3 linked regions of the Homo sapiens genome follow. The protein of the gene in region 1 purifies or fractionates together with the protein of each later gene. This does not show direct contact. Each region holds a gene or a part of one and is shown on either strand. Other genes may lie near its edges. The genes, in order: RARG, ZPLD1 and PNMA8A.

Region 1 (10,455 bases):
TCCCTATCCTATTTGACAGGAGAACTCTCATTTGCAAACACTTCCATTGAGTCCACATCCAAACTCCTTCCTCACCACCACTACCACCCTCCATTATTCACTACTACTCCATTAGGCCAAACCCCTGTCCCCTGCCTGCCTTCCTAACTGGGGTGCCAACTCTTTTACCATCCACCCTCCTGATGCCTTCTTGTTAACATTTGCCTTCATTCCCCAAGATCCCTGAGACTCACACAGAGAGGCCATCTCCTTGGGGAGGTCAGGCTGGCCCAGGCCCCGGAAGCTAGGGCTCAGCATCTCGAAAGGCGGAGACCCCCTGAGTGCCCCTGGGAAGGCGAAGGGGAAACCTGCCCCTGGGTAGCCAGATCCAGGCCCCAGGGCACCAGCCGCAAAGAGTCGCTCCTTATTGGTGGCCATGGCAGCTGCGGTGTGAGAGTCCCCTGGGGTCTGCAGTGGGCGGGCGAGGTCTTCAGCCACAGCCCCTGCCCATGCCCACTGCCCCAGCCTGGGAGGCTCCGTACCCGCCCTGCCTGGCCTGCCCACTGGGCCTCCAAAAGTCCTAGGGAGAAAGAGAGAGAAAGGAGAGATGAGAGAATGACCACTCTGAGGTTCCAAGCCCTGTGACCCTCTCTCAGTTGCAGTCTTCTCCCTCTGTGCTGCTACAGTTTATCCTGCCCTGGCTCAGGGCCCTTGCAGTGTGGTAGAGAGGGCACGGCAGGGGGTTATGCAGGCTCTGAGAAACTCTCCAGAGGAGCTCCAGGAAAGGTTAAACTGAGGTCCCAAGGTGAATGATGGTCTAAGGACTTCTGGTGGAGAGAACTCCTAGATTGGGAAGTGATCATGAATCACCACAACTGGGCTAAGCATTTGACCTAAACCTCACATCAGTCCTGTGAACTGGGAGTTATGATTCTCATTTCACATATGAGGAAACTGAGGTGAAGTGACTGGCTTAAGGTCACATGGCTGCAAGTGGGGGAGCCCAGATTCAAACTCTTTACCATCCTGGAGAAGGCAAACATAACTCTGTTATAACCTGGGAGCCCTACAGCTCTCTGGAGAGGAGTACAAGGCAAAGGTTAGGGGGACAGACTCTAGAGCCAGACTACCTGGACTGTACCCCACCACTTGCTAGCTGTGGGACTTCAGGCATGTCACTTAATCTCTCTGTGCCTCAGTTTCTTCATGCGTCACTTGGGACTAATAATAGGGCCTACCTCATATGGTTATTGTGAGGACTAAATAAATTAACCAATGTCAAGTGTCTGGCATAATGTAGGGCACATAGGAAATGTGATGTAAATGTCTCATATTAGTTCTCTTTGTACCTTATTTTCCTCCATACTCTGCTTCAGTAAGCACTTCCCTCTCTGTTTTCCTCAACACTCCCTCTTCCAGTTTCCTCTCCCAATTCTTCCTGTCTCCAATTTTTCCTCACCCTGTAAGCCCTCTTGTACCCACTGCTTCAAATCTAAGGATGTTGATGGAGCCCCCACTTGTGCCAAGTGTATGATGCCAAGGAGCTGCTTCTTGGTCAGCTGACTTTACTTCTCTGCCTCCTTTTTTCTCTCTCTCTCTCTCTTTTTTTGTTTTGTTTTGTTGAGACAGCTAATGTTTATATTTTTAGTAGAGATGGGGTTTCTCCAGGTTGGTCAGGCTGGTCTCGAACTCCCAACCTCAGATGATCCGCCCACCTTGGCCTCTCAAAGTGCTGGGATTACAGGCGTGAGCGACACGCCCGGGCATTCTGCCTCCTTTTCTTTCTTATCCCTGGGCTCCCTGTTTCTAGGAAGTTCTCCCTGCAACCTCTCCTCCCCCAAAAGTAGGCTTCCCTCTAAGAGTTTAAACCTGAGCCCAGGGGAAGGGGAGGAGAAGGAGGTAGAGAGAGGAGATGGGAATCCTAGTGCTAAGTAGGTGGTTCCTATCTTCATCCCCTGACAAAGGAAAAGTTTGGCTTTCCTAGGAGCCCCAGAACTTCTCACCTCTCTAGGCAGTTAGTGGGCTAGGGAGGAAAAGTCACCCCAGCCTGGGTATCTCCACCAGTCAGAGCCATAACAGACTGCTATGAAGGGCAGAGAAGGGCCAAGAGACTAAAATGCAGAGAGACCATGGGGTGGGCAGGCCCAGAGGTAGGGGATGGGTATATCTGCCTTTCTTTCCATCAGTATTTGCTTCTAGGATGTATAGCTCTCAGTCTTTATACCTCTGGTTTTTATTTTTGTTTTTGCTTGTTTTTCTTTCTCTCCTCTACCTTGGCCTTCAAGCCCTTGAGGGTAAACTGTCATGGAGGTTACAAGAACCCAGACCCCAACGCCATCACATTTCACTCAGCCCTTATGAATGAAGCATCCCCTGCCCCTCACCATGGCACCACCCATACACCCAGCACCCTCAAACTCTTTAGCCCAGTGTCTTCGCAGGCCCTAAAAGTCTGAGCTCCAAGCCTCCAGGGTCCCTCTCCTTTTCCTTCTCCTATTCCCCTCCGAAGTTCTCATCCCTAGTTAAGCCCTGATGGAGCCAGGAGTTTGGGGGCCCCTGAGGCCCCTGGGCCACAGCTCAACTGGCCAGGCCACATTCCAGGTGGATTAACCCCTCCAATGACAAGGGTGAGAAGCTACTAGAGGACTCCCCCATCCCCATGTTCCCCAGACTTGGCTTAGACTGGGAACAGGGCTCTCTGCCTTAGCCCTCCTTGTCTTTGCTTCTCACCTACCAATGGGAAACACAGGCAGGTAGGGCAGTGGGGGTCCCCACAGAGGGATGCTCAGCTCCTGATCCTCACCAAGGAATGATGCTGCATGTGAGCCAATGAGAGTTGTCCTTGGCCTTCCTCTTATTTTGCCTCAGAGAAGGGACTTGGGAGTTGAGTGAAGAGAGGAAGGGGGTAGAGATTCCTCCCATTTCTGAGCCTTGGTTCTGTCGTGGCTGGGAAGAGAAGGGGAGGGTCTTAAACCCAGGGTAGGAGAATGGACTAAGGAATTGAAGGCAGTGCAGAGTAAAAGGAAGTCCTAAACTGAGGCCCCAGGTGCCTTGGTTCTTTGGGGGACTCATGGAAAGTAGAGAACATTCTTCCTCTACTAAGATGCCATCTCAAATGGTGGGGCAGCGGGGATGACAGACTAGGGGAGAGGGGCTCTTACAAAGCTGCTTCTCTTAGAGCTGAGGTGGAGTTGAGGGGAGGGCATGGATGAAGGGGGCTGCCGGATGGAGGGGGGTGTGTTTCCCTGTCGCCCTGCCCGCTCCAGAGCCTGGAACAAAGCTGCTCTTGTCGGCCACTCTCCACCCGCTGCCCCCCTCCCCTCTGTATAAACACGACCACCTTTTTCCATGACCCCATCTCCAGCCTGGGCAGAGAACCCAGGCATCCTCTGCTCTAGCCTGGGCCCCCAGCCTGCTCCCCAGGAGGCAGCAGTGGGCCAGGCTTCCTTGGCATTGTGCCATCCCTGGGGGAGTCCAGACCCTTGAGTCTCCACCTCTCATCCCCAGGTGCCCTCCCTCCACCCTACTAGCCCCAGGGAGGGGCAGTGCCCAGGAGGCAGGCAGGCAATGCCAGTGGAATGTGTGTGGGCATCAGAGGGCATGGACAGGGTGGGGCAGAGGGGGGAACTGGAGGTGCCAGTTAGGTGGCTTTCTGAGCCAGGGGTGGGGGTGTGCCGGGGTGTGGGGGGGCGTGCCCCATGCTGCCTACTAGGCTGTAGGCCACAGTGCGTGTGTGTGTGTGTGTGTGTGTGTGTGTGTGTGTGTGTGTGTGTGTATGTCTGTCTATATGGGATACCCAAGCTCCAGGCTCCCTGCACACACTACCCCCACTCCCCTGTCTTCTCTCTACTTGCCTCAAGGATATGAGATGCTGGCTATGGTCCTTGACCCCAACTCAGCATCTGACCCTAAGGGCAGAAGCCTCAGACTTGAGGATTGGGATTCCAGCTGCCCAGGACCAGAGCCCTAAAGCGGGACAGTCATCTCAGTTTCTTGCCCTGAAGACCTCCTACTCAGGCTCCCCTGCCCCCACCACCACTAACAACCAAGCATCTTCTTACCCGCTGGCCGCCTGCAGAGACTGGCTTCTACATACTGGGTCAGGTTGAGGGAACTGGGCCGTAGCTGCTAAAGACAGAGAGGCAGCGTCAGTGGAACTCTGGGACCAGCACTCCTGGGTCCCTGTCCCGGTCTTCCTGCTCTTTCTTTGTTCCATTTGGGCTTCCCTCAAGAATACTCCAGAGGTGCCCCCCACCTTGGCTGGAGGGAGCCAAGGCTCGCACCTGGGCTGGGAACGTGTGGGAGGGAATCCAGCGCTTCAAGGAAAGTTCACAGATCCCTATCCTATGCACCAGTCCTTCGGAACTCCTGGACGCGGAGGGCCAGGCTCACTTGCCTCTGGACGTTTTCCTTGCCTTCTGATGTCCAAGCTGTCCCATTCCACTGGGGAGGGAGGAACTTGGACCAGCATGGAACATCAAATCTACCCCTCAGAGCCCGGGGGTAAGGGGGTGGTAGTCTTTCCCCGCGAGAGGAAACCCTGTCTTCTCTCACATTCCCAGCACAAAAATATAAGGAGGAATGCCCCCTGGCTGAAGACTTCCCCAAATGCTGTCCTCTGCTATGCACCAAAATGAAGGGCAGATGACCCAGCCCATCCTCAGCCTGTTAAAATCTTCCCCATTCCCTTCCCACAGCAGGACTGGCCTGGGTCGGGGCAAGAAGCCCCCCTCAAGCCCGGCGGCCAGCCTGGCCAGCCTCGGGAGGGCATTCGCCCGTGCAGCTCCTCCGCGCCCCCTCCCCCAGCCGCCTCGCCGGAGGACCCAGGCGACGGGGCGGGCGAGCCTGCTTCCCCGCCTGACTCACCTGGAGTGGGAGGGGGAAGGGAGGCGGCGGAGCCCCGAGGTCCCGGCGTCGGGCAGTCTCTTGGATGGAGCGTCGCAATGTCCGGGGCTCGCCGTACTGGGGGGCTCCTGGGGGGGCACGGCTCTAGGCTGGGACTGTCCCGGGGCCTCTCGGAGCCCGCCCGCCCACGTGACCGCCCCAAAATATCCGACACATTTTCTCCCAAACCGCACACTGACTCTGCAGGCGGGGACACGGAAAATATTTTCTTTCTTTTTCTCCCTCCCCACCCCCCCCCCAACCTCCCTCCCTGCCCAACTCCCTCCTCCCCCTCCCGCCCTCGCTCCTCCCTCCCCTGCCTGCCCCTGCCCGGCTCCCTCCTCTGTGCCCTGGGGCTGGGGGGCGGAGGGATGGGTGGGCGGGAGGGGGACTGGGCGGGGCGGCCCGGGACGCCTGGGTCTCTGCCCTTCCCATTTGCTAGGCTTCCGTGACTCCATCCTCTGGGAGGCCGGGCACGGCTGGCAGAGGAGGTCAGTGTCCTGGCCCCGTGATGCCAACCTTTTCTCTCTGGCACTTTTCTCCTTTCTGCCTTTTGGGGGGACTAGTTGAGTTGTCTGTGGCCAGGCTGTGACTCTTGCGAGGCCAGTCTCTGGCGCCTCCCCAGGGTAGGCAATGGGGCGGTACCCACTCCCTCCCAGTGCTGGATTGGCCGGGCAGGAGTATGCCAGATCTAGAATAGATGCTCCTGCCCTTACTCTTTGCTCAGCCTTCACCTGCAGATCCAAGTAGCCTCTCCCTTCCCCTAGCCCACCTCAGTCCTTTGGTCCCAGGAGCAAACTGGTTGACTAGTGGCTGTTGCTGGGGGTGCTGAGGCCAGGGCTCACAGACATCTTCCCTGTCATCTTGCCTGGAGTAAGCTCCAGGAGTTAGGGCGCCTGGGTCCCTGGCTGCCAGTTGTCCCCCACCTTTAGGCCTGGATTTGGAAGGGGAGAGGCTGGAGAGGAGGGCAGGAGGAACTGTGGCTGGGAGTGGGAGGAGCCTTGGGCTGGGTGTGAGAGAGAAAGCCCAGGCAGAGGGTGTGTGTCTGCCCTAGCCAGCACCGGCCTGCCTGCCTGCCTGCCTGGTAGATGTGCCATGAATGCTGTTGACTCCGGGTGTGTGTGTGTGTGCGTGTGTGTGTGTGTGTGTCTGTGCAAGCGCGTGCGCATGCCAGTGCCGAGAGTGAGTGTCTGTGTCTGATGGGGGCATTATCTGCTTCAACATAGACAGACTCTCAACCCTAGAGTGAGAGAACCCAGTGGTTTCACTCTGCATTCTACTGAGGACAGAGGGAGAGAAAAGAATGGGTCTGCAGTCCAAGCTCTGTGCACGGATCCCAAACACTCCCATGGGGACTGGAGTTGGGAGGGAGAAAGAGGAGAAGGGGAGAGTCTGAGCTAGGCTGATAGGCTGGACAGACATACCCAAAGTACCTTCCCCAGCAATGCTCGCAGGGTGACCAGGACCTGGGACACAGACTCCTGGGTCACGTCACATTTTCCATACTGGAATTACTTGGCTTTGTCCTTGCTCCCCCCTGGGGGCCAGGTGTCCTCCCTCCTGGGAAAGGCTGCTTTTGGTAGCCAAAGTCAGGTGAAGGAGATGGGGGAAAGAAGAGGCATGCTGTGGTTACCTCAGGGAATGGGAGATGGCAATGGGGGTGCAGACAAGCCCTCTCTTTCACTCCAGGGATAGGAAGAGCTAGGAATAGATACTCCAGGGTCCCGTCCCCAGGTGGCCTAGCTGCTGTTGACTTTGCTTGGTTACCCTGGGAGCAGCTCTCAGCAGTGTGGGAGGGGCGGGTGTCAGGGAGTTGGACCCAGGCGTCCAGGCTGGGGTGGGATGGCGCCCCGCCTGTGTGGCAGGGCTCCTGCCAAGAGGCTGCAAAGTTAACCCCTCCTGCCCTGCCCTAGTGGTGGCTGGTGGGAGGAGGGCGGGCCCAGTTGTGGTTTGGGAATGTGGCCCTAATTTCCCCCTCCCCCTTCCAGCACATCTGTACTTGGTTTACAGTGAATGAGCCTCCTGTCCTCATGAACCAGGCAAGGGCACCACTCCCTCCTTGGCCAGGCATTCTGACACAGAACCAGGCACCACCCGTGACACTCTCCTCTCCCTGCTGAGTATCATCTCTCTGAACTCTTCCCTTCTCCTTCTGTAGAGGGGCTTAGGGTTGGTCCCAAAGATCTACAGCTGGAGCTCTGAGACAGTGCATCTAGGTAGCAAATGGGGCCAGGGAAGCCTAAATCGGGGGACAAAACACTTGGGGTAGCCTCTGAAAACAGAGGGAGTCAGAATTCCAACTGTCTCTGCCCTCCCTTTGTCTTGGTTTGTCTGTCTGTCTGCCCGGGTCTTTGTCTCTGGTGGGCGTTTGTCTATCCATCCGTCTTGGTAACTGTAGCTCCTCCCTTCTGGCGGCCTCCTCGTCCCCAGCCGACGACAGCAGCCAAGCAGCGATGCCCAGGAAGACCCGCCCTATGCCGGCCCCTCCCCTTGGGATTGCCACTGCTTCCACCCCCGCCCCCTCTACCGCCCCTCCCCAGGACCCAGTGACTGGGGTCTGTTCACTGCAGCAGTTTGGAAGTCAAACCAAACAGCAGCAGCAGATTGGGGGACAGGGAAGAGGGGCATTGTGAGGGCTTCAGATTCTTCTCCCCACCCTCCACTCCCCAGCTTGCAACAGAGCCAGCTTTCTGTCCAGAGATTCCAGGAGGAGGCTTGGGAAGAGGGCTTCCCACTCTGGAAACTGGTGGAGGGGGCTCCCCTCATTCCTCTTTCCCTTGGGTCATCCCTATTTCTAGGCTTTGCTCTGTTTGTGGCTGCTCTACTTTGTCACCCTGGCAACTTGGAGAAATGATATCTTGGGGGCCCTAGTACCAGGCTTTGTTTGCTCCCCTCATCCCAGAGCAAAGACCAAAAGGAGAGATTATGAGGAGAGGAAAAGGATGCAGATATCTGTCCCACCTGTCCTGAAAGTCATGGGGAAATGACTTATTCAGTGCCCTGATGCTGGGGGGGCGGACAGTGGTGAGGATGAAAATTGCCCCACCCTAATTTTCACCCTCACCCCCTCCCAACCCTCCGGCATCAGGACACTGAATAGGTCATTTCCCCATGCCCAAATCTGGTGGTGTGGGGGATGTCCTATGCCATGCTCAGAGGTGTCTGGCAGATGACTATAGGGGGTGGTGGGGGAGCTGTGTTGCAGCCCCCAAAGACATCATTAAGGCATGGAAGTGCTGTCAGGGCTTGGGGACCAGGGCACCCAGGGAGAGCGTGATGAAAACATGTTTTGTACAACACGTGTCCTCTCTTTTCCCTTCCTCCTCTCCTCTCCCACCTCCTCCCCCTAGGCAAGCTCTGTGCCAGTGCTGGTGCCAGCCCTGCCTCTGGTGCTTGCTCCACTCCATCCCTTGTACTAGGCCTATTCTGCTGCTTGCCAGCTCGTTGACTCTCCTGGTGAGGGAGTTTGTGTGTAGAAGGTCCTTACCAGCCCCAGTGCTGCCCAGATCCCCACATAGAATAAGGACTTAATTTTGAAGCTCAGGATTTTAGGATTAGCCTAAACACCTCTGGGAATTTCTTCCCTGAACAGGCACCATGCATTAATTCAACAAATCTTTATTAGGCATCCACTATGTGATAAGCACTGTGCTAGGTTCTGGGAATACCCAGGTATGGTCCCTGGCAAGTTCACAGTCGGATGGAGTCAGTTGTTAACCAAATAATCCACAAAACTGCAACTAGAATAATCAGTGTGGAGAGGCATGAGGGACCATGAGAATGGAGCAGAGGAGTATTCTCCGCCAAGGAGATCAGGAAAGTCTTCGGAGAAAAAATGAGGGAGATTAGAGAGAAGGAAGGGCAGTGAAATATATGTGCTGCTCAAGAGTATGTGCAAAGGCCCTGGAATTGATGTCCTGGCCCTCAGCCAGTCTGCTCCCCCTGCCCCCAAAAAAGAGGGGCCTTCCATTCCTGTGACGTGCTTGGATTTCAATATGCCAAAAGGGAGGGATGGTAAGTACCTCCTTGTGGTCATAGCAGGACGCTGAGATACCTGAATGCATTCATTTCCTCCAGAAAGGGAAACAGAGACAGAGAGGGAAGACGACTCACAGGCTGAGACTTGAGATTATACTATGGAAAACAAGGCCCCATGCTGGCAAATCCTCCAGGGTGAGGGATTCCTGCATTTGCCCAGCTGGAGCCTCACCAGACAGAAGGCCTTCTCCTCTGAGCCTGCTCTACCATGCCCCCACTCCCCCGATCCAGCCCTGACCTGTCCCACTCCCTGGAGCTAGCACGTCTGCCTCCACAGTTGCCTGGAGTGTGTGTGAGGCGAGTGCTACAGGTGTCTGCCAGCCAGTGTGTGGGTGGATGTAGCTGTCTGTTTTGCACAGAATCTCCATCCAGGGGATACGGGGTTCTCTTTCCCCTGTCCACTGGAGAGCTTCCAATTCCTCCTACCCAGACACAAAAGTTCCAAGTCTCTTCCTTTTGAAAAGGAATTGGGGGCCCCTTGAAAGAGGGAGCAGACCTCTTTGTGACTGTGCCTCCTCTAGAGCCAGCAAAGAGGTCATGGAACCAATGGGGTTAAGTCCCAGCCCTGCTGTGACCCACTTTCCTCCCTGTGCCCACATCCCCTGGGGCCAGAGTGTTGGGTGGGGCCAGCCTGGCACCCCCACACCCACACCTGGGACTTCCCCTGGATGGAAACTCCCAGAACCCAGGCATCCTGCTTCCCCTGCCAACTCCCACCAACTGCCTGGGTTCTATTCAGCTTCAGTTAGATCTCCCTGTCTGCCAGCCTTTGACCAAACTACATCTGTGCTCCAGCCCACCCTTTGGTGTCTGGCTGCCCCTTCTGGTGGACTCCTTTGAAGAAAAGATGTGGAGCTGGGGGAGGGGGCTGTGGAGAAGCCATCTTTTATTGAGCACCTACTATGTGCCATGTATTGTGCTAGACATGTACATTATCTCATCCCCACTTAACAGAGCAGGGAGTAAGAACTGGAGAGGTTAAGTGACTTGCTCAATATTGCACAGCTAGGAAGTGGCACAGCTAAGAGGAGAACCCAGATCTTGGTGGTCCTGAGCTCTCTTCACTATAGCAGCGTTCTTCCACTTCTCTTGCAGCTGCCCACCTCTCTATGGGATGAGAGACTTGAGAAATTCAATTTAATCCAATTCAGCAAACACTGAGTATCTGCTATGTGCCAGGTACTGACAGGTACCAGAAATAAAGAGATCACTGTCCTCGAGGTCTGGTGAGAAAGACGAGCATTTGGAAGTGCTCTAACATCAGCATAATGACCTGAACAAGGTGGCACGGAGCTGAGAAAGAAGCGGTACTTTTATTTCCTCCTTCTGTACAGAGTATATAAATATATTATGAACAGTATACAGAATAAATGGAATAAAGTCAATACCTACTTCATTGCCATCCAGGTCAAAAACTGGAGTATTTCCTATACTTCAGAAGTTCCCCATGCATCCCTTTCACAATTCCCTCAGTCTCCTAAAAACGAACTACAATCCTGACGTTTGTAATAATCGTAAACACAGAAATTACTTGTTTTTCTTTATAGTTTTAGC
Region 2 (10,824 bases), on another chromosome or scaffold:
CATCCAGTTGTTCCAGTTAAAAACATCCTTTAATCTTCTCTTTCTCTCACCTCCCAAACCAAATCAATTCTCCATTTCTGCTGAGTCTACCACAAAAATATCTCTTAATAACTGTCCCCTTGTAATGCTTCCACTGCCACTGCCTTCAGGATATTTCTCTCTGCCTCTAGTCTATTCTAACTTGATTCTATCTTACACACTTGTCCTAATGTCTCTTCCTAAAACAAAATGTGACCACATCAAACCTCTTAAAAGATATGTTTAAAAAGACTCAGTGACTCTTGATTGCATTCAAAATTAAGAGAAAACACTTTTATTACACTACATAACACATGTTCTCACCAAAATAATTGACTTGAATTTACTTAAACTTCTAGCTCTCATTGGTTTACAGGATAGACAGGAAAAAGGAGCCTGTTCAATGACACCTCAGAGTTGCAGTTGGCCAAATCCGGTGTCAGAACTCTACAAGACAAATGACCAAACTGCTCAAAGAGATAAACAGCATTTTGTAAAAGCAAAGGACAGAGGAGAACTGTTATAAAACAAAATGAAATAAAAGATATATCAACAAATACTCTATGTGAAGATTTTAGAAGCAACTTGGCTGCATTTAATGATATTAAGAAATTACTGTTGGGCTTATTAGACGTATACGTAAAGGATAATGATTTTTAAGTTCTTTTCCATCACATATAAACACCAAAGCATGAATAATGCATTTATTTTAAATATGCCAGAGATGGGAGTGGTAAGGACAAAGATCAAACAAAATTTATAAATGTTGATAATTGATAACGCTAGATAATCAATATGAGTGCTCTTTCTACTAACCTCTACTTTTGTATGTTTGAAGTTTTCCATAATAATAAATGTAAAAAAAGCTCATTTTTGATATTCAAAGCCATTAACAACTCTGCCTTAGCAAATTTTTCTTGAATTCCTTTGGTCATTCCCACCGTGACCTTCATATTTTACTAACAAACCAAGCACTTACATCCTAGGTCTAAGTTCATGAAGACATTCAGACAATTTCTGATGTGGGCTCTGTTGTAGAAATCGCACTTTATCTATGTAACTACCTACTGATTGCTCTATGCAGGTTTGCTGTTTCATAGCATGCTCCAAACACAGGAGGACTGGCAGGTTTTGAGAATGTAAACCACGGCCAAAGAGATTCCATTTGCATGGCAGACTTGGAAAATTGTTTCCAATTACCTAATATTTATTTTGTAAATGTTGAACTGTGGTTCCATTACTTTAGCTAATATAAAATGATGAATACCTAGGTAAAACCTTGAGTAACTTATCATTGAATGCAGGTTTTAGAAACCTGTGGGACATGCCCATCAATGTTGCCAAATCTCGTATTTGTCACAACGTTGATGGGTTTCTGTGAAATTCATTCTGAAGCTCACCTGTGTCCTTTGTGGTAATCATCATTTCATTGAAATAGCATTTTTTTGTATTGTACAATATTTTACAATCATTTTCTTAAGATTATTCCTAAATAAATATTAGCATTTAAGAGCAGTTCTTTAAAGTCTAAATTAATTTATGAGAAAAAAAGACACAAATTTTGAATGAAATTAGTCTCTCCCAATTTTTTACACAGTAGGCAATATTTTTCATATCTGTGAGCAGCCATTATAATAATATTAACTATGATGAACACTTTGTATGTTAATATGGATATAAATTACAGCTCCAGAAAAATGTCTTGTCATTTGCCATTTGTTAATATCCACTTAATGTAAAGAGATAGCCCCCCGTTCTCCATATATATTTAAATGACTTGCTCTTCAAATATAATCACTCTTCCAGAAACAACTAGAGAATAGATTAGGCTTACACTTACCAGGAAATCTACTGTGGAGGTTGGCATCACAGTTGTAGCCGTTGAACTGAGCAGACCCCGGAAGCACTCTAATTGTTAGAAGCAGCAGCAACCATATTTGTTCCATTGCAAAACCTGGAAAAGAGATATCTATCATGTGGACACTCCCACTTAACTCCTTCACTCCTACTTACTGGAAAAACTGAGGCTGATCTCAGCTCACTGTTGGATAAGCAGTTTACATCCATGCAGCCAAAGCTCACGAAATAACTGAGGATTATCGGTAGTAAAGGCAGATATTTGGGTTACAACATTTCAATATTGTTTTCATCATTGCCTCCTGTTGGCTAAGGGTGACAAAGCTAGATTTTCATAGTAGAAGAGCTAAGGTATAAATCATAAAGTTTACAAAAGGAAACTTCTTTATTATGCATAGGAAGAACGCAAACCAAGTATCTAGCAGATTGGAATAGCATAACTAGGCAGACTAATTTGGAGATGAGTCTACTTTTTACAATACCAACAAGTATATAGTCAGAGGAATTTAAATGTTGGATACTTGATTCTAAGAGGAATCTCAATAATCTTAATGACCAAATAACAACTTTCCCTTAACAGAAAACAGAAAAAAGTCTCCCCCAACAGAAGAATTCCAGACTACTGCAACTTTTCAAAATCAATGGTTTGTGTGTCATTTTCTTAGGAAACATAGTGATAAAGCAAAAGGAAGAACAGGAAAATACTCTGTGTGTGAACAACATTGCAGTTCCTCCCACAACTGCTCCTTGGTGGGTAGTAAGGACTGATACAGACATAAGAAAACGTTGAATTCTTAGGATAAAGTAATGGAAGATTTTTTTAAATGTATCAGTGTGGGTTGAACAGTTAAATAGAAATGGACTTTTACTTAAACACCAGTCAGTTTTGCGTTTAATAATTCTTTTTCCTGGATGCCCATTCATTGGCCTGATAGAGTTAAAACATCTTTCAGGAATACCTAACTTATTCTCAGAGCATAGTTTGTACACTGAAAAGAATCTTTTGGGTTGGTGGTCTTGGTCTACGCATAAAAAGCAAAAAGAAAATAAAATTGCAAGTGGTTTACTCAAATAATTTAGTGGATTTTAAAAGCTTGGGTTTTGGAAGGAAAATGGTGTTTTAGCTGTCCTTAAAAATCTACCCTTAGATAATTAATCAAGTCTTTAGGAAAAGGAAGGAAACACATCTTGCTTTTGAATCATCATTTCAGAATAACAAGTTTACAGTGAATAAAGTCACTTTGGTGAGGATGTGGGAAAGAAAGTCATGCTCACTCTCAAAAATCGACTGAAAAAAAATATTAATTCAGCAGGAACTTCCTTCCTTTGGCACTATCACACAGTACTCGGGCACAGATCTAAAGACTTTGGAGAGAACAGCCATATGCCTAGTTAGTTCTGATTGCCTGTGACAGTCCATAAGCAAAAGGCTCACACCAGTGGCTGACCCAGACCCTAGGAGCTCTTGGCCATACCTGCGCCATCATTATCTAGCTCCTCAAGATACTTCAACTAGAATAAGACAGTCTTGCTCTTTTGGAGTCTTTGGAAGACACTAGAAAAGAAAGAAGCCTGAATAAGCAATACACTCCACTGCACCCACATTTATTCCATGCTCCATGCTCCACCACTTCCTTCTCATGATGGGTCCCAAGAACTCCTGGAAGACATTGGAAACTCTAGACCCACACTGTTGTCCCCAACACAGAGGTGTATCCTAAGAAATTACAGAATCAGGAATTTAAGTTGGTGAGTTATTTTGTGGTTCTGAAATGCTTTCTAGCTAACATATATTTTTCACAGGAGAAAATAACATTTACTGAATGTACACTTTGCACAAAGAAGGCACTTTGTGCCAGATAACTTTCCTATAGCTGCTCATTTATATTTTTTATAATGATGGGTGAGGTTACAATTATTACTGCATGTACAGAGAAAAGAATGAGTCTCAGAAGGTTTAAATGACGTGAAAATGAAGTGGAGGAACTAGAATTCAACCCTAAGTCTTTCTGATAGTAAAGTTTGTTGAACAAGCTACCTAAATTTCATCTGTTATTAAATTTAAGATTTTCTTTATTGCCATTTATCATCAGCTGTTTTCTTTAGCTTTTTACTTTGTGTATCTTTTAATAGATCTGTTCATTTATAATGAGTAAACAATTTTGATGTAATTAATACAATTTTCTTTATAGATATATTTTATAATGGGGCATTATGAGAAATAAAATTATTTTTAAAAAAGAGACAGAGAGAATTGTTTATTTCTCATTGTGAAAACAGCAAAAAAATTATTATTGACTAAACTAGACACATTTGTGTTGGCCAAAAATAAATGAAAAACTCATGTTAATTGAAACAGCTCACTGAGAACAAGTAGTAAACTCTTAGCCTTAAAGCTTTAAATCACATCTCAGGTTGTCCCAAAAAGGCATGACACTGTCCTACTCTCCTTAACAAAACCTACAGCACTTTCATAGTGATTAATACCCTAACCATTTTTTAATGAATACGAGGTGGAAGTAGAAGGCAGCTTTCTTTAACAGAAAATATATTGATTTTTATGTTAGCAGGTATAGATTCAGATAAATCCCTTCTCAGCCATTCTGTAGATTTGTCATTTAAAAATCAAGATAATGGCCAGGCGTGGTGGCTCACGCCCGTAATCCCAGCACTCTGGGAGGCCGAGGCGGGTGGATCATGAGGTCAGGAGATCGAGATCATCCTGGCTAATACGGTGAAACACCGTCTCTAGTAAAAATACAAAAAATTAGCCGGGCGTGGTGGCGGGAGCCTGTAGTCCCAGCTACTCGGGAGGCTGAGGCAGGAGAATGGGGTGAACCCAGGAGGCGGAGCTTACAGTGAGCTGAGATCTCGCCACTGCACTCCAGCCTGGGCTACAGAGCAAGACTCCGTCTCAGAAAAAAAAAAAAAAAAAAAAATCAAGATGATGATCATAGACTTTACAAAGTATAAGTGCATAAAGTATAGTATAGTTTGGACATACAGAAGGCATTGAAAACTTAGTTTCAAGGCCACCACATATTGATGTGCAGGTCGTACCCTCCACAAGGGCATCCAATGCAGGAAAACAATGTCTAGGTCTGAACTTCTTTGGACTAGCCATGTACTCTAGAGCTAAGCTACAATACAAAGTGTCTCATGGGCTAGTGACATCCCTAATTGGTTGAATCTCTATTTGAGTTACAATGATATTTGTGCTGATCTGTGTTTTAATATTAAGGCACATTAGGCAAGGAATTTTAAAAGGACACCCATATCTCTTATAAAGGCAGTATCCCTATTTTGAATCTCTATAGTCTTGGCAGGGCTTACGACATTTTCAAGCCTTCTTTATAGTTCAACTGTAAGTTAAAACAAACTGATGAACTATTATCTTGCAAATTTCCCATCCTCAACCTTACCTTCATCATTTCCCCTGCACATGGAAAACCTGAGCATCATCTTGCCATAGCAAGCTTGGAGATGCTATTTTAGCACAGTCCCTAAATACTTTTCTGAAATTGAATTGTATGGGATTGGGGGATTATGTTAACACCCTTTACATTCCTCAAAAACATATCATCCTGGCTGCTCAGGCTCCCTAGATCTTAGGCAGGTGCAATTCCAGACATGTGTATTTTAGCTCTGATCTGGTTATAAAGGTTTAGTGGAGTTTCTTTTCAGAATGTAGAACCTGATTCTGTGGTTTACTCTGGAATAATCTAAGGTGCTTGCTGTCCCACTGTGGCTCCAGCAAACTCTTGACAGAGAATCTGAGCAGAAGCATTTTTCACCTTCTCCACCACATCTAAGTGCAGCAACCAATGTCTCTGCTTGGATTTTAATAGTGGTTTACAAGAATGCCTTGTCTAATACATCCAATAATACAAAATATTAATACCACAGTCTGAGATGATAATGGCCTTGAAGATATGTGTGCAAAAGAGTTTTGTATGTGTTTCTTATTTAGAATCTTCATAAGTTTAAATTGATGGGAATGGGGAGGAGAAGGAGGATTATAAGTAAAATGTTGAATTTTAAGAAATTCAGAAGTGTTTGTGTAAAAAAAGAGACATCTGTATCTCATAAACTGTTACTAATAGAAAAGGAAGTCATATGCTAAGTGATTTGCTGTCAAATATGTCAATATTTCTCATACTAAATTTTCTTTTTAAAATGACTTCTTCCAACATATAAATCTCTAATTTCTTTGCTTAGAATTAAATTTGGAGTCAGAAAAATATAATGCACTTTTAATTCCTCCTCAATTTTATATTAATTGGTATAGTTCTGTCACAAACATTGGTCTTTAGATTTTAATATAAAATAATCTTTGTTTAATCTTTTTATTGAGATCTGTTACTGTATGTACCAGGCACTGTGCTATGTTTAATATTCAACTAATTACATAGATTTAATTTTTACTCATGTTAAAAATGTGAAAACCAAAGCTTAAATATTTTAATTGACTCGCACAGGGTCACAGACATAGTAAATGGCAATGCAGAATTCAAAAATGAGCTTGACATTTGGAATTATTACATTATTCTCTTTGACTTGATTGGAGGTTTTCAAATAAAATTAATGTCCTACTAATTTTCAGAAAGTAAATTATATTAATAATGTATGCTTAAGATATGCTCTGAATTAAATAATTCAGATGATTGAGACAAAATATTTTTTAATATCTACATAATTTTCATGACTCTATTTCATTAGGCAGTGAGTGCATAAAGAACATTGTTCTTGGCCAGGCGCGGTGGCTCACGCCTATAATCTCAGCACTTTGGGAGGCCGAGGCGGGTGTATCACGAGGTCAGGAGATCGAGACCATCCTGGCTAACACGGTGAAACCACGTCTCTTCTAAAAAAATACAAAAAAATTAGCCGGGCGTGGTGGCGGGTGCCTTAGTCCCAGTTACTCGGGAGGCTGAGTCAGAAGAATGCCTTGAACCCGGGAGGCGGAGCTTGCAGTGAGCCGAGATCACGCCACTGCACTCCAGCCTGGGTGACAGAGCGAGACTCCGTCTCAAGACAAAAAGAAAAAGAATATTGTTCTTTTCAAAAATTGATTTAATGTAATACTTATAAGTTTTAAGAGCTGACTGTGTACCAGAGTGTTTTAAATACTTTTATATGTGTTTTCTAACTATGAGATAGGCAATTTATTCTCCCTATACTGGGGAATGAGAAAACTAAGGCACAGTAATCTGAAGTAATTTGCCCAATGCTAAGCAGACAGCCACTGTTAGAATCAGGATTCACGCCCGGAGCAATGACTACAGAAACAACCCTCAACTATTATGTGGCACCGCCTTCCAGAAAATGATGCATATAATGCTAAATCAAATGGAAATTTGGCAATTTCTTGGTAAATTTGATCAGTATTGCTTTATTCTTGTGTATACTGATCAAATAATTATTGAATGTTTATATGTGTCTGGTACTCTCCAGGGAGTGGGGGGATGCTGAGGTACAGCAATCAGAAAAATTTTTATTGCATATCTGCATAGAACTTACATTCTAACTTCTAAGTCAGAAGGAACCAAAATCTACAAGTAAAATATAGAGTATATTTGTGATAAGTGCTATGGAGATGAATAAAGCAAGAAGAATAGTAGGAAGTTCTAAGGTGGAAGGAAGAAATATTGAAGTTTTAAATAAAGTGGTCAGAGATATATAACTAACCCATATAAATGAAGCTTGCTGGGGGGAACATTGATTATGAACAACCCAGATCTATGTGTCTATAATGTATACCTCACTTGCTTTTTTTTTCTTGCCATTTAGCTACTTCTCAAATAAAATAGACTTTCCTAGTGCACAAATTACTCTTTGGGAATAACTTGGACACTTTAAAAATCTGCATTAACCTTTTCAGATGAATAAAGGTGGCTCTTAGTGCCTGAGAAAAGTAATTTATTAAATAGCACCCCTGTGACCTGAAAAAAAAAGTGAACATGTTCGAAAGTGCCTTTATCTGCTCTCAAGAAATAACTTTTGCAGAGACAAATGACCTCAACAATTTATCAAACTTTTAAATTTCCTTAATTTCATTGCCTTGATATAGGCTGATCTGTTGTTATAGTTGGAAAGAAAAATAGAAAATTCAAACTAAATATCATCTCTTCAAATGTTAAACATCAATCTGAGATTTATGCACTTTTCCCCACTAAACTAAAGCTAGTTTTTTATCATACAGATTCACAAAAATGTGAAATGAGTTCTTTGGCATCGGTGAGGCCCCAGTCCTCTAATTCTTGGCTCTCCACTGCATTTACTGAGCAGCTACTCTCCACAGGCTGCCATTCCTGTAGGGGCATGGCCTCATACCCAGTGCTTCTGCATCACTCACTCAAACCTGCTCTGCAGAAAAGATCACAACAGTTCATTAAGGTTTAAATTACTGGAAACATTAAAAGATCTCAGGAAAAAAGGAGAAAAAAATGTGTGTATTTTAACAGAGATCAAAGTTTAAGTTAAAGGATGAAACTCTACTCCAGCATTGGACAACTAATAGATCCTAGGTAAACGGGCACTAAAGCCACACAGGTAGGCAACTGTATTGCCCAGCTAAGAATCATGATGTTACACAGTCTTCTCTCCAGGAAAAGTACATATTAACTCGCCCTTCAAAATCATTATTGTTTTTTGTTTGTTTGTTTGTGAGACAGAGTTTCATTCTTGTCACCCAGGCTGGAGTGCAATGGCACAATCTGGGCTCACTGCAGCCTCTGCCTCTTGAGTTCAAGTGATTCTCCTGCCTCAGCCTCCTGAGTAGCTGGGATTACAGGCAACCGCCACCACGTCCAGCTAATTTTTGTATTTTGAATAGAGACGGGGTTTCACCATGTTGGCCAGGCTGGTTGCGAACTCCTGACCTCAGGTGATCCACACACCCCGGCCTCCCAAAATTCTGGGATTACAGGCATGAGCCATCATGCCCGGCCCTAAATCATTAGTTTTAAAGTGCTAAGGATCACAACTCCTTAATAAAGAAACATGTTCTCTGATGGGGTGTCTAGACTGAAGCTCTATATTCTTTATCTTTATCTTGCACTTGCACATTAGAGTCAACATATATATTAAAAGAAAAATGAAAATATATGACCTTCATTGGAAATATTCATTATTATGTACATATACATTCATTAATGTAGAATGTCCTTGTCTTGCTAAATAAAGAAAAAAACACACCATGTACTTTCAGAATAATGCCTCAAACAAAGAAGGAAATATGTTGAGCCAACAAGAAGACATTCAGAAATTTTATGGCTCTTAAGATGCTGATGTATACCATAAGGAAATATGAATGCTAAAGGCTGCTCCTAAGAGAAAAACCTACTCCAATTTTCTCTGACACAAAGTGAGTGTTCATTTATTTCCCTTTGCCTGCCTTCCTCATTTGTCTTTCTGTTGAGGGTTTTCTTAAGTAATCTACAGCATTTAAATGATCTACAGTGTTTAGTTTAGAACATTTATTGTACAATCTGAGTTTTGGGGGAGTAAGTGAAATGATAGGTGGAACTAAGTCACTTTAAAAGCTTTCCCTTAATAATTCACCAGGTTCCTTTTCAAGATATTTGCACATTTTATTCTTCTGAAGCAGCTTTGAAGATATGCTAGCATATTGACTTCCTTCCTCCTTTCATGAAGTGTAATCATAACAAATTAATAATAAAATAATAATTTTACTAGTTATCTTAATTGCTCATTTCCCTCCAATGAAAACTTGACTATTGGTATTATTACATCAGAATAAAAATATTTCTTTCTCAATAGAGATGATAGGCAAAATATTTATGAGAAGGCACAGCACAGGAATCAATCACAAGGGACAAAATGCCAGTATCTTTTGGCTGAATATAAACCCACTCCCCGATATTCAAATGTATGTTCATGGGTACCAACAATGAATAATGGCAATATAATTTCACATCTTTGTCAACCCTTTCCTAAGAATAAAACAGCTCTTTTTCCTATAGTACTCCTCTCTTTGAGATTTCTGTTAATTAATTATTTATTTCACATATTTTTGGTGAGCAGTTTCTAAGCATTGGACTCAAGGTCTTGGGAAGTCAGAAGTAAGCAAAACAAACATAAGCTTTACCCACACAGAGCTTATAGACTATAGACAGAGGGAGTTATTAAATTAATAATCAAGCACATTAAAAAATGTTTGCAAAATATGTTAGGAAAGTGCTATGAAAGAAAAGTAAAGCACAGTAGATCCTAATTTAGATGGCAGGTGTCAGGAAAAGACTTTCTGAGAAATGCAACAGTTGAAAAGTATTGAAGGACTGAGTCAAGTTAGTCAGATGAAGGCTGGAGCAAGGTGAACTAGGTAGCATTCATCGCATGACCACAGATCCTCAAATGTCAAAACAGTCAATACTTTGTGAAACTTTTTTGGAAGAAAGTCCATCATCCTGAGCTAGGAGGAGAGGGCCAGAAGTTGTCTCCCTGTAGGCAGCAGGGCCGGGCTACACCTTTTCTCCTAAGTGGAATGGAAAATCATTGAAGACTTTTGAATTGAGTGCTACTGTTATAATACTAGGGGTGCATTAAAGTAAACATATTTAAAATATTATTTTGAAAAGGAAATAACAGGACTTGTTGCATTCTAGGTGCAGAGTGAGTACGAAAAAGGAATCAAGAATGACTCACAAGTTACATTCTCAGAAACTAGGACTATAACAGAGTCTAATACAGCCTTGAGATGTGGAGATTCCAATTAGATATTGCATTTCTCATCTTTTTTATCTATGTATTTATCCAAACATATGTACATCTATCTATCTATCCATCCATCTATCTGTTGTGGTGGTGGTGGATACTGAGTCATTTGGAAGTTAGTTTTAGACATTTTGATCCATATTCCAGCACACATCTCAAGAATAAGGGCCTTCTCCACATAACCACAATGGCATTATCAATCGCAAGAAAGTT
Region 3 (10,943 bases), on another chromosome or scaffold:
ACGAGAAATTTGTTTTAAAGTTGAATCACTGAGAACATCTAACAACTGTTCACATTCTTTATCACAAAAACTGAAGTCGGAAAAGACGCCCTGAAAACTTGCAAGGGCTAATACTCTATGATAGAATATTACTACTGTTCACCATGTTAATACATTTACTTACTACCATACACCTGAACAGTCACGGCAGAACAAGAGCATGTGAATGACGAAAGGAAACTTGCTTTCAGGGTGTCAGATTATAGAACATGCACAGGAATTTCTTCCACTTCTAACCTCGCTCATCAGTCACATTTACAAGAAACTCAATTTTAAGCAAAGAGATGCCTGAAATAACTAAGACGTGTACAAAAACAAGTTAACCTATGAACACAAGGTAATATTCTGATAGTCTTCGATGTGACTTCCAACATATCTGAGTAGTCACTTTTCAGTTTTTTAAACACGTGAGAAAAATAGATTTGGATTACATCTTTGTGGACGGCTACGATACAGTTTGGAAACCATTATCTCAGGGACCCTGCTCTCTCCTCTACACATGCGCACGCAAACACACACACACACACACACAATGACACATGGTGGTCTGGTCTAATATAGTGTGTCTGAATTCAGAGGGCAGACATTAACAGCCAAGTTTTGTTTTTTTGAGAGAGAGTCTCACTCTGCTGCCCAGGCTGGAGTGCCGTGGCACAATCTCGGCTCATTGCAACCTCTGCCTCCTGGATTCAAGCAATTCATCTGCCTCAGCCTCCTGAGTAGCTGGGATTACAGGCGCGCGCCACCACGCCCAGCTAATTTTTGTAGAGATGGGGTTTCACCATGTTGGTCAAGCTGGTCTTAAACGCCTGACCTCGTGATCGACCTGCCTCAGCCTCCCAAAGTGCTGGGATTACAGGCGTGAGCCACCGTGCCCGGCCAACAGCCAAGTTTTAAAAGATTTTTTTCCCCTCTTACTATAATGTGAGTAGTGACCTTCTGCTGCAAAGATGGTGACAGTTTGGTGCAAAGATGGTGACAGTTGGGTAGATGGATGGAATTAGAGCTGGGGACCTAGGAATGCCTGCGTCCTTCCCTATAATCACCCCCCTTCCCCACAGGATTCCTGAGAGGGCTCATCCCAAATGGGAATCAAAGTGCCATTTTTACTAACAGACTCTAAAACTCAAAGACTTTGAGGTCTAGGCAGACATTCTTTTTCCCTAAAACTAACTCTTGGGACCTCCTGGCTAGATAACTGGAGGATGGAAGCTGGAGACTGAAGGAGCAATAAAACCAGGTTTGCAGCGAAGGTCCTGGCTTAACTTACCCCGCTGGTTACACGAGAGGAAGGCGGGAGGAAGAATATGGCAGGGCCACCCAGCTCTTCCAAATGCCAGGGCCTGCAGAGGTCGCTGACCATTCCGAGGAGGGAGCAAGGCGTGGGGGAGAAAAGCTGAACATGGATGAGTGTAACAGTGACCCTGCTCATGCATAAAGGGGAATGAATGTTCTAGAATTTTCCCAATCCTCTTACCAACTCTCCTGCCTCCGAAGAGAAGGTGAGTAGAGAAGGCGGTGAAACGGCAGGCCTGGTAGAGAAAAGGGCATAGAGATCCACCTCCCTTCCCCAACTCCCTCCCACCCAAGACCTCACCTATCGTTTACCTCAGGGCCAGATCTCTATCAACAGGGGCCCTAAGAGAGTCCAAAGTCTTATTCAGTGACAAGAGAGAACTTGGTTGACTTGGTACTTCTTCCTTGTTCTTTCAACTCCTCAGTATGGGTGGTCCCCCAGATCAAACCTTTCTGGATTCTGCAAATAAATGAGAGAACAGATCAAGAAGGGAAGCAGAGAGGTGTCATTAGGAAATGCATTACTTCCAAGAAATTTCTGGGTCCCTGAACATTTCTATTCCCCAGCCAGGTCTCTAGAAAACTTCACCCTTAAAGCCACATACCCTGCAAACACCATAACTCCAAAGTATTAATATTTTTTTTGGGGGGAGGGGGGAACAGGGTTTCACTCTATCGCCCAGGCTGGAGTGCAGCAGTGTGATCTTGGCTCCCTGCAACCTCCACCTCCCAGGTTCAGGGAGGGTAAGAGCCCAGACCGCCCTTCCAGGAGCCCCTGAAGGCCGATGCTGGAGACATCTGGTGGGCAGATGTCTGGAGGCCAATCCCAGGCCTTGGCCTCCCCAGTAGCTGGGATTACAGGCACAAACCACCATGCCCAGCTAATTTTTGTATTTTTAGTAGAGATGGGGTTTCACCATGTTGGCCAGGCTGGTCTCGAACTCCTGACCTCAGGTGATCTGTCTGCCTTGGCCTCCCAAATCATTAAATTCTTTTTTTTTTTTTTGGAGACAAGAGTCTCACTCTCGTCACCCAGGCTGGAGGGCAGTGGCACAATCTAGGCTCACTGCAACCTCCACCTCCCGGGTTCAAGAGATTCTCCTGCCTCAGCCTCCCGAGTAGCTGGGATTACAGGTATGTGGCACCACACCCGGCTAATTTTTTGTATTTTTAGTAGAGACGGGGTTTCACCATGTTGGCCAGGCTGGTCTTGAACTCCTGACCTCAGGCGATCTGCCCACCTTGGCTTCCCAAAGTGCTGGGATTACAGGCATGAGCCACCAAGCCTGGGCCCAAACCATTAAATTCTCATCAAGGAAGATGGGTCAGATGGAGTGGCAAATGACCACAGTGACACTCATTGTGGGTTTCCTCTGCCACCTCCTGCCCACCAGATGTCTCCAGCATCGGCCTTCAGGGGCTCCTGGAAGGGCGGTCTGGGCTCTTACCCTCCTCAACTGGTGTGTCATCCACCTCCTGCCATGCACCAGGGTCCTCCTCATCACCCGCTTGACCCACCACCTCCTCGGGCTCCTCTGCCCCACCTGCCACTCCTGCTCCTCCTGCCTCATCCACTTGCTGGCACGAGCCCAGTCACTTCTGCTATCATTCTCACCATTGGTGGCACGCCGAGGAGAGCCTTCTGGCTTGGCCTTCGGACCCCTAGAGGTTGAGGCTGTTGCCTCGGCAGGCTGCTGGCCCCGAGGGGCCTTCTGATCTGATGCCTCCCTTCTTGAGCCTGGCCCTTTCTTTGGCATCACCGGCTTCTTCCTGCCATCTTCTGAGTCAACCAAGACGTAGGAGACAGGGCCCAAGCTCACCTTCTTCTTCTTCCTCATGGGAGCGGGGTTCTTGGCAGACACCCAGGCCACGGCCTTCTTCTTTGGTGGGCTTTCATGGCCACCATCTTGGTCTGACTCAGAGGCGCCTCCTGGGCTCTCGGCTTCTGCCCGGGCATCCTGAGGTGGCTCTCTGGGACCCTTCCAGGCACATTTCGCCATGGGCTTCTTCAAAGCCAACTCCTCCTTATTCACACAGGGCTTTCTGCTGCCCTTGATCGGCTCTGAGATCGCCATGCTTTCAGCATCACCCACCTCAGGATCCTCCAAGTTAGCTGTGCTGTTGGAATTGATGCCTTTGGGTTTTTTCCAGGGCACTGCTTCCTGCCTGGAGTTCTTCTTCTGCTTCTTTCTCCTGGAGCGAGACTTAGCTCCAGCCCTGCGAACCAAAGGTTTGGTAGGCTCATGCTGGTCTTCCGTGGCATTCCAGTTGTTGGGGGTCTCTGCCTTTAAGGCAGAACCCACCTCTGCTGCAAGCCCCGGTTCTTTCTTCACCTTCCTCCCTGCTGCTAAAGCCCAGGCTGCCATCTCCTCGAATTCAGCGGCCTCCTGGGCCCTGGCTTCCTCCCGGCTGCGGATCTCGGCATCCATGCAGAAGATGATCTGCACCACTGCTCCCAGAAGCACCCCCAGAGCTTCTGCCCAGTTCTCTGGGGGCTGATGCTGGTTCTGGGACAGGGTGGGGTGGTTGAGCTGGAGCAGGCGGACCACATCCTCCCAGGTGCGCCCCTCGGCATCCAGGAATTCATTCAGATTTTTTAAAAACTCGGCATCCTGGGTAGGGTCTCTACAGACCACTCTCCAGACACCACCCCTTCCTGGGAATTCACGGGGGATGGTGCTCAGATTCACACCTTCACCAACCTCAATGAGGGCAGCTTTAACATTCTCTTCCCTCACAAAAATCTTGTTGAGCACGCGGTACGGGCCCAGTGGGGAGAGGACCCCATTCAAGGTCTCCTCAATTTCTGCCTGCCCACAGTCCTCTGGGATGCCTGTGACCAACAAGGACCTGTGGATGTCCACTTCCATTCCCCTGCACCAATCCTCCAGAAGGTTCATCGCCATGGTCTTGGACATTTAGCGGCTCTGAACCTACTATGTGTAGTAAATAGTCTATCAGGTGGACGTGGGCTGCAGCGGTCTCCAAACAGTAATCCTGCAAGGTGACAAGGGAGCGAGGTCACGTTCCCAGGAAGATGACCAAGCTCACAGATCCTAGCTGCCCCCTCCGCGGCTGGCCTGCAGGAGGCCTGGCGCTTTCCCAACACCCTCCTCCCCAACCCAGGCCCCGGTGCTCACACGTGTCCCTGAATCTGCAGCAAAAGGCCCTAGGACCCTCCCCCGGGCCTGACGCTCCGCCTGCCCAGCCGGGACTTACTTGGCAGATCAGCCTCCGACCGCCCAGCCAGGCCAAGGAGACGCAGTGGAATGCAGCCGTTTCCCAGTCGCTGGCTCCGGCTACCCCGGCGCCGCTGCTAGAGGCAGAAAGGGCCAAGAAGGCGCCGTCCGCCCCCGCTCCGGCCCAGGCGGGTCACGGGGCGTCCAGACTCGATGCCGTTAGCGGCGAGAAGCCGAGGTTGGCGTCGCAGCGCGCGCCTGCGCACTGGCTCCCGCACCGCCGCTCGGGGGTCTTGGGCTGCGCAGGTGCCGACGTCTCCATGGCAACCGGGCGTGGGTTGCTAGGGCTGAGCCCGGCCGGCGCGCCGGCGCTGCAATTGGACCTAGGGAGCCGGGTGCAAGAGTGGCCTGTTCAGGTCGCAGAGCAAGCGGGTCTGGATACACTCCGGTGGCGCCTCCACGGAGGCCCTCTTTCAACCCAAGTGGGCCTCGCGAACGGGGGTTAGGTCGATGAGAAGCGCCAACACCTATGGCTGCACCCACTGACTGTATTATCCTCTGCCCCACCTGTTGGATTCACCCAACGCAACTCTTGGGAGACACTAGAAATCAAGAAAGGAGGAAAACGAGGCTTTAATCTTCTTGGGTTCCTCCAACAGCAGGTGCAGTTCCTGTTGGGCTTGTAGCCTTCTCTCTTACAAGCTGCTGGGTTCTTCCAGGAATTTCCAGAAACTTCTAGAAATTTCTTAGTCTCCTCCCCGACCCCTTCTAGCATGAGGATAATGCCTCGCCTTTTCTTGTTTCCTCAACGTGATTCAGGGCAGGTTCTTGGCATCCTCCAGGCAGGGGACAATGTTACAGCTCAGTGACTGCCCCTACAGAGAAGTGTTAGTCCAAACTGCAACCATTTTGTAAGCCCTGACTATTTTGCAGATCTTGGTCAAAGTGAAATATTCCACGGGGGTTCGGGCCAATGAGAAACATCCTGCCTAATCACCTGACCACAAGGCGGACAAAGGCCCAGCTAAAGAAACATTATCATACCCTATCGTGCAAAGGCCCAACTGAAGAAACATCCCTATCATATTCTGCTGGGAGAAAGTGCAGAGAACACCACATTCCACCAGAACAAGGGCCAGAACCGCCTCATCATGGAACCATCTTATCAACATCCTGCTGGGCAGCAAACCATACTGCTCAGACCCCTCCCACCCATAACTATAAGTACCCCCAGCCTATAAGCAGCAGTGGGCTCTGGCATTAGGCTGGTTACCCACTTCCACAGGTGTCTGCAGTATACCTGAGTTGCTGTTGAGCCGCCTTCTGTCTGTGTGTCTTTAACCCTCACCTTCCCTCCAAAACCTAACAAGGAGGGCTACCCTCTAGGCAGTGTGCTGAGAATAGCACCTCGGGGCAAGGCTGCAGTCACATTTATACCCACTTTTAATGACGTGCTAATTAAGGGGTGGGTTTTCAGAATTAGCAAATTGGCAGTAACTTATGGGTGTTGCCATGGCAATGGTAAACTGTCATGGTGCTGGCAGGCATGTCTTATGGAGAGAGGCTTTCGGTGCCTTTTCCAGGTTTTGGCCAGTCTTCAATGTGATCCTCAGTGGAGTCCCCTGGGCCTCCTACCTCAACCTTGCTGCCCATGAGCAAGAACTTTGTTAATAGTTTATTAATGCCCAGTGCTGTGGCTCACGCATGTAATCCCAACACTTTGGGAGGCTGAGGAGGGCGGATCACTTGAGCTGGGGAGTTCGAGACCATCCTGGGCAACATGGCAAAACCCCGTCCCTACCAAAAACGCAAAAAATTAGCCAGGTGTGATAGGGGTCACCTGTGGTCTCAGCTATTCGGGAGGCTGAGGTGGGAGGATTGCTTGAACCCAGGAGACCCTGTCTCAAAAAAAATAAACTAATTAATTAAGCACTCCTATGAGACTCGGTTGGACTGGCCATCTGTTTTTTTTTTTTTTTTTTTGCCAGTCCCTCACTGATCCACCTACCAATGTCCCTTCCTGGCTGTGTGATCTTAGAGAAATAATTTGACCCCGCTGAGCTTATTTCTTTTCTCTGTAATAGGAATTCTAATAAAAAATCTTCCTGATTTGGAAGTTTTGAAGATTCGGGGGGATCTCATCTGAAAGATGCATGGAAGTACAATTTGGGCCTTGGTATTCAACCAAAATCTGTTCTTTGGGTTCATTTTTGAAACTGACATTTGCAAGGCCAAATAGCCAAATGTTCATTTCACTGTCATCTCTGGCATTCCTAAATTTGGGCATCATCAATACTTGTGTGATTGCCCAAGTTTCCATCATATTTTGTGCTAAAAAGTTGTGTCATTCAAATCGTTAACCTCTGATTATTCACATAATTCACACCGAATATTCCAATAAACACTCTAGCTATGATTAAAGTCTTTAAATCTCATGTGCTTTATATGTTGAAATTCTACATATCAGTGGAAGAATGAGTGTATATTTTTAGGCAGTGGTTTAAAAACATAGCCATAAATTCTCCGACACTTCTATTGAGAAGTGACGATCTGTGTCCCCTCCTCGTGAATCTGAGCAGACTTGTGACTACTTTAACCAATGGAGTTTAGTGGAAAGGAAGCTATGTGGCTTCTCAGACTATGTTACAGAAGGGCACGCAGCTTCTTCCTCATTCACTGGAACACTTTTTTTTTTTCTTTTTTGAGACAGAGTCTCGCTCTGTCGCCCAGGCTGGAGTGCAGTGGCGCAATCTCGGCTCACTGCAAGCCCCACCTCCCGGGTTCACAGCATTCCAGGTTGGGAAGAACAATGAACAATTTTTCTGAGAGATGGCTAATCACAATCCCCCATGGGCACAATGACCTCTTTCTGCATGTAGCCCCCTCCAGCATACCCCTATGAAACTTCCAGTCCCTGCCTTTTTGCAGACAGCCCCCTTCTCTGCTGTGCTGCCCATTGCAACCGTGCAATGTATTTTCATATCTTCTCTAATAAATCTGCCTTTCTTTACCTACAACTGTCTTGGTAAATACCTTTACTGCCCACAACACCCGCCGCACCTAGTCGTACCCGTGACAGTTGGGGGTGACTCAAATGACTGAGAGCTAGAATCATCTGGGAGTTTCTTCACTCACATGTCTGGTGCCTGGGCTGAAATCCTTTGAAAGCTGGGCTCAGCTGGGAAATGTTGATGGAAGCACTGATGTGGCTTGGGCTTCCTCACAGCATGAAAACCAGAGGGTAGATCGTTGAACTTCTTATTTGGAAGCTCAAGGATGCAAGAACAAGAGTGTTCCTGTGAGGCTGGGCGCGGTGGCTCACGTCTGTAATCCCACCCTTTGGGAGGTTGAGGCGGGTGGATCTGGACGTCAGGAGATCGAGACCATCCTGGCTAACATGGTGAAACCCCGTCTCTACTAAAAATCCAAAAAAATTAGCCGGGCCTGGTGGCAAGCTCCTGTAATCGCAGCTACTCGGGAGGCTGAGGCAGGAGAATGGCCTGGCCAACATGGTGAGCCGAGGCTGCACCATGGCATTCCAGCCTGGGGGACAAGAGCGAGACTTCGTCTCAAAAAAAGAAAGAGAGGCCGGCGCGGGCTCACGCCTGTAATCCCAGCACTTTGGGAGGCCAAGGCGGGCGGATCGTGGGTCAGGAGATCGAGACCACCCTGGCTAACATGGTGAAACCCTGTCTCTACTAAAAATACAACAACAACAACAAAAATTAGCCGGGCGTGGTGGCGGGCGCCTGTAGTCCCAGCTACTCAGGAGGCTGAGGCAGGAGAATGGCGTGAACTCGGGAGGCAGAGCTTGCAGTGAGCCGAGATCACGCCACTGCACTCTAGCCTGGGCGACAGAGCAAGACTCCGTCTCAAAAAAAAAAAAAAAAAAAAAAGTTACTCTAGAGAAGTATTTGGGACCCCCATGGGAATGAGATGCGTCTACCACCGTAACAGGAGGGACCTCTGCATCCAGGACATCTGGGTCCAGGAACGCTAGTAGGAGTGAAGGTAGAAAAATGAAGACGGGCTGGGCACGATGGCTCACGCCTGTAATCCCAGCACTGTGGGAGGCCAAGGCAGGCAGCTCACCTGAGATCAGGGGTTCAAGACCAGCCTGACCAACATGGAGAAACCCTGTGTCTACTACTAATACAAAAATTAGCCGGGCATAGTGGTGCATGCCTGTAATCCCAGGTACTTGGGAGGCTAAGGCAGGAGAATCGCTTGAACCCAGGAGGCGGAGGTTGCGGTGAGCTGAGATTGTGCCATTGCACTCCAGCCTGGGCAACAAGAGTGAAACTCCGTCTCACAAACAAAAAAAAAAAGTAAATTATTTTTTGAAAAATAAATATAGGTTAAAATAGTGAATTTTATGTTATGTGTATTTTACTACAAAAGTGAACAAATAATGCGTTACAGAATGGAGAGATGGGGGGCAAGGGAGGGAGAGAGATGCCTTCAGCTTTGCCTCAAAAGCCAGGTTTCAGCTTTCTGCAGAGCCAATATTCCTAACAGTCCTGGCTGCCCCTTCAGGAATGCCACCCAACCCCAGTGCATGAGCACAGAATCAAAGTTCTGGAACTTTCTCTTCAAAGAGAAAACAAAACATCTCAGTGTGTTTGAAAATTCTGCTAAGGATTTGTCAGACCAAAAAAAAATAATAATAAAAAAATAAAAGAAGAAGAAGAAAATCGTCAATCTAGACAGGATAAAAAGTAAATTTATACCAGCAGTGGATTGTAAAACATCATAACTAAAATGAAATGGAATGGATGTTTGCTGAATCTCAGAGGCTTTTGCTATGTTTGCCAAGTAGTTTTACAAATGCGGGAGCTTGTTTGTGATCCAGGCTGCAGACAAAGTTGCTGCAGTGGAAACTGAGTCACACAGTGACTCAGTTAGAATTAGACACTGTCTGTTTTTTCTTCTCTCTTTTTCAGTTATTTATTTTGGCATGCAAGGGAATGACAGACACTGAGTTTTGATAAATACTGGATTTTTAAATGCAATAATCCTCCAAGTGACTATCTCTGGGGAGAAGAAGAGGGCAAGTCATATGGGAGGTAGGACACAGCCTATTTAAACAATAATTTTGTTTAAAGATGTGTAAATAAATTTAGCATAGTATTAAGATTTAATAAAGAATGGCAAGGGATACATAAGGGTTAATTATATAAATCTCTTTTTTTTTTTTTTTCTGAGACAGAGTCTTACTCTGTCCCCCAGGCTGGAGTGCAGTGGCGCACTCAGCCTCCACCTGCAGGGTTCAAACGATTCTCCTACCTTAGCCTCCTGAGTAGCCGTGATTACAGGCACGTGCCACCATGCTGAGCTAATTTTTGTATTTTTAGTAGAGAAGGGGTTTCCCCATGTTGCCCAGGCTGGTCTCAAACTGCTGACCTCAAGTGATCCGCCTGCCTCGGCCTCCCAAAGTGCTGGGATTACAGACATGAGCTGCTGAGTCCAGCCAATAATGCTAAAAAAAAAAAAAAAAAAAAAAAAAAGGTGTAAATAAATTTAGCATAGTATTAAGATTTGATGAAGAATGGCACGGGATGCATGAGGATTAGTTATATAAATATCAATTCTTTTTTTTTCGAGACTGAGTCTCACTTTGTCACCCAGGCTGGAGTGCAGTGGCGCGACCTCGGCTCACTGCAGCCTCTGCCTCCTGGGTTCAAGCAGTTCTCCTGCCTCAACCTCTCAAGTAGCTGGGATTACAGGGACCCGCCACTATGCCTGGCAAATTTTTGTACTTTGTTTTGTTTTGTTTTGTTTTAAGACGGAGTCTCGCTCTGTCACCCAGGCTGGCTTGCAGTGGCGCGATCTCGGCTCACTGTAAGCTCCACCTCCCGGGTTCACGCCATTCTCCTGCCTCAGCCTCCCAAATAGCTGAGACTACAGGTGCCCGCCACCACGCCCGGCTAATTTTTTGTATTTTTAGTAGAGATGAGGTTTCACCATGTTAGCCAGGATGGTCTCGATCTTCTGACCCCGTGATCCGCCCGCCTCGGCCTCCCAAAGTGCTAGGATTACAGGCATGAGCCACCACACCCAGCTTTTTTTCTTCTTGAGACAGGATCTTGCTCTATCTCCCAGGCTACAGTGCAGTGGCAGGATCACAACTCACTACAGACTCAACCTCCTGGGCACAAGCGAGCCTCCTGCCTCAGCCTCCTGAGTAGCTGGGACCACAGGCATGCACCACCACGCCCAGCTAATTTTTAAAATTTTTTTGTAGGGCCAGGGTATCACTATGTTGGGTAAGATGGTCTCCAACTCCTGTCTCAGCCTCCCAAAGTTCTGGAATTATAGGCATGAGCCACCGTGCCCAGTCAATTCTCTATTCTTGACTTTGAGTTTGGAATATTCCACAATTTTTATTTTATTTTATTTTATTTTATTTTATTTTATTTTATTTTATTT

What was found.
Region 2: the proteins of RARG (region 1) and ZPLD1 purify together in Homo sapiens (affinity purification with mass spectrometry; 2 studies listed by BioGRID and IntAct, with this or other methods). This does not show direct contact.
Region 3: the proteins of RARG (region 1) and PNMA8A purify together in Homo sapiens (affinity purification with mass spectrometry; 2 studies listed by BioGRID and IntAct, with this or other methods). This does not show direct contact.

The regions. Positions count from the first base shown.
Region 1 is NC_000012.12:53,227,129-53,237,583, forward strand, and holds the start of RARG (retinoic acid receptor gamma), read right to left. Parts: upstream 5,082-10,455; 5' UTR 4,846-5,081; intron 4,108-4,845; 5' UTR 4,041-4,107; intron 560-4,040; 5' UTR 418-559; coding exon 234-417; intron 1-233.
Region 2 is NC_000003.12:102,429,628-102,440,451, reverse strand, and holds the start of ZPLD1 (zona pellucida-like domain-containing protein 1 isoform 2 precursor), read right to left. Parts: upstream 5,438-10,824; 5' UTR 5,338-5,437; coding exon of another isoform or gene 5,298-5,337; intron 3,593-5,297; 5' UTR 3,479-3,592; intron 1,973-3,478; coding exon of another isoform or gene 1,965-1,972; coding exon 1,859-1,964; intron 1-1,858. UniProt on the Homo sapiens protein: Glycoprotein which is a component of the gelatinous extracellular matrix in the cupulae of the vestibular organ.
Region 3 is NC_000019.10:46,466,783-46,477,725, forward strand, and holds the start of PNMA8A (paraneoplastic antigen-like protein 8A), read right to left. Parts: upstream 4,782-10,943; 5' UTR 4,555-4,781; intron 4,333-4,554; 5' UTR 4,254-4,332; coding exon 2,951-4,253; coding exon of another isoform or gene 2,880-2,950; intron 1,796-2,879; coding exon 1,779-1,795; coding exon of another isoform or gene 1,757-1,778; 3' UTR 1-1,756.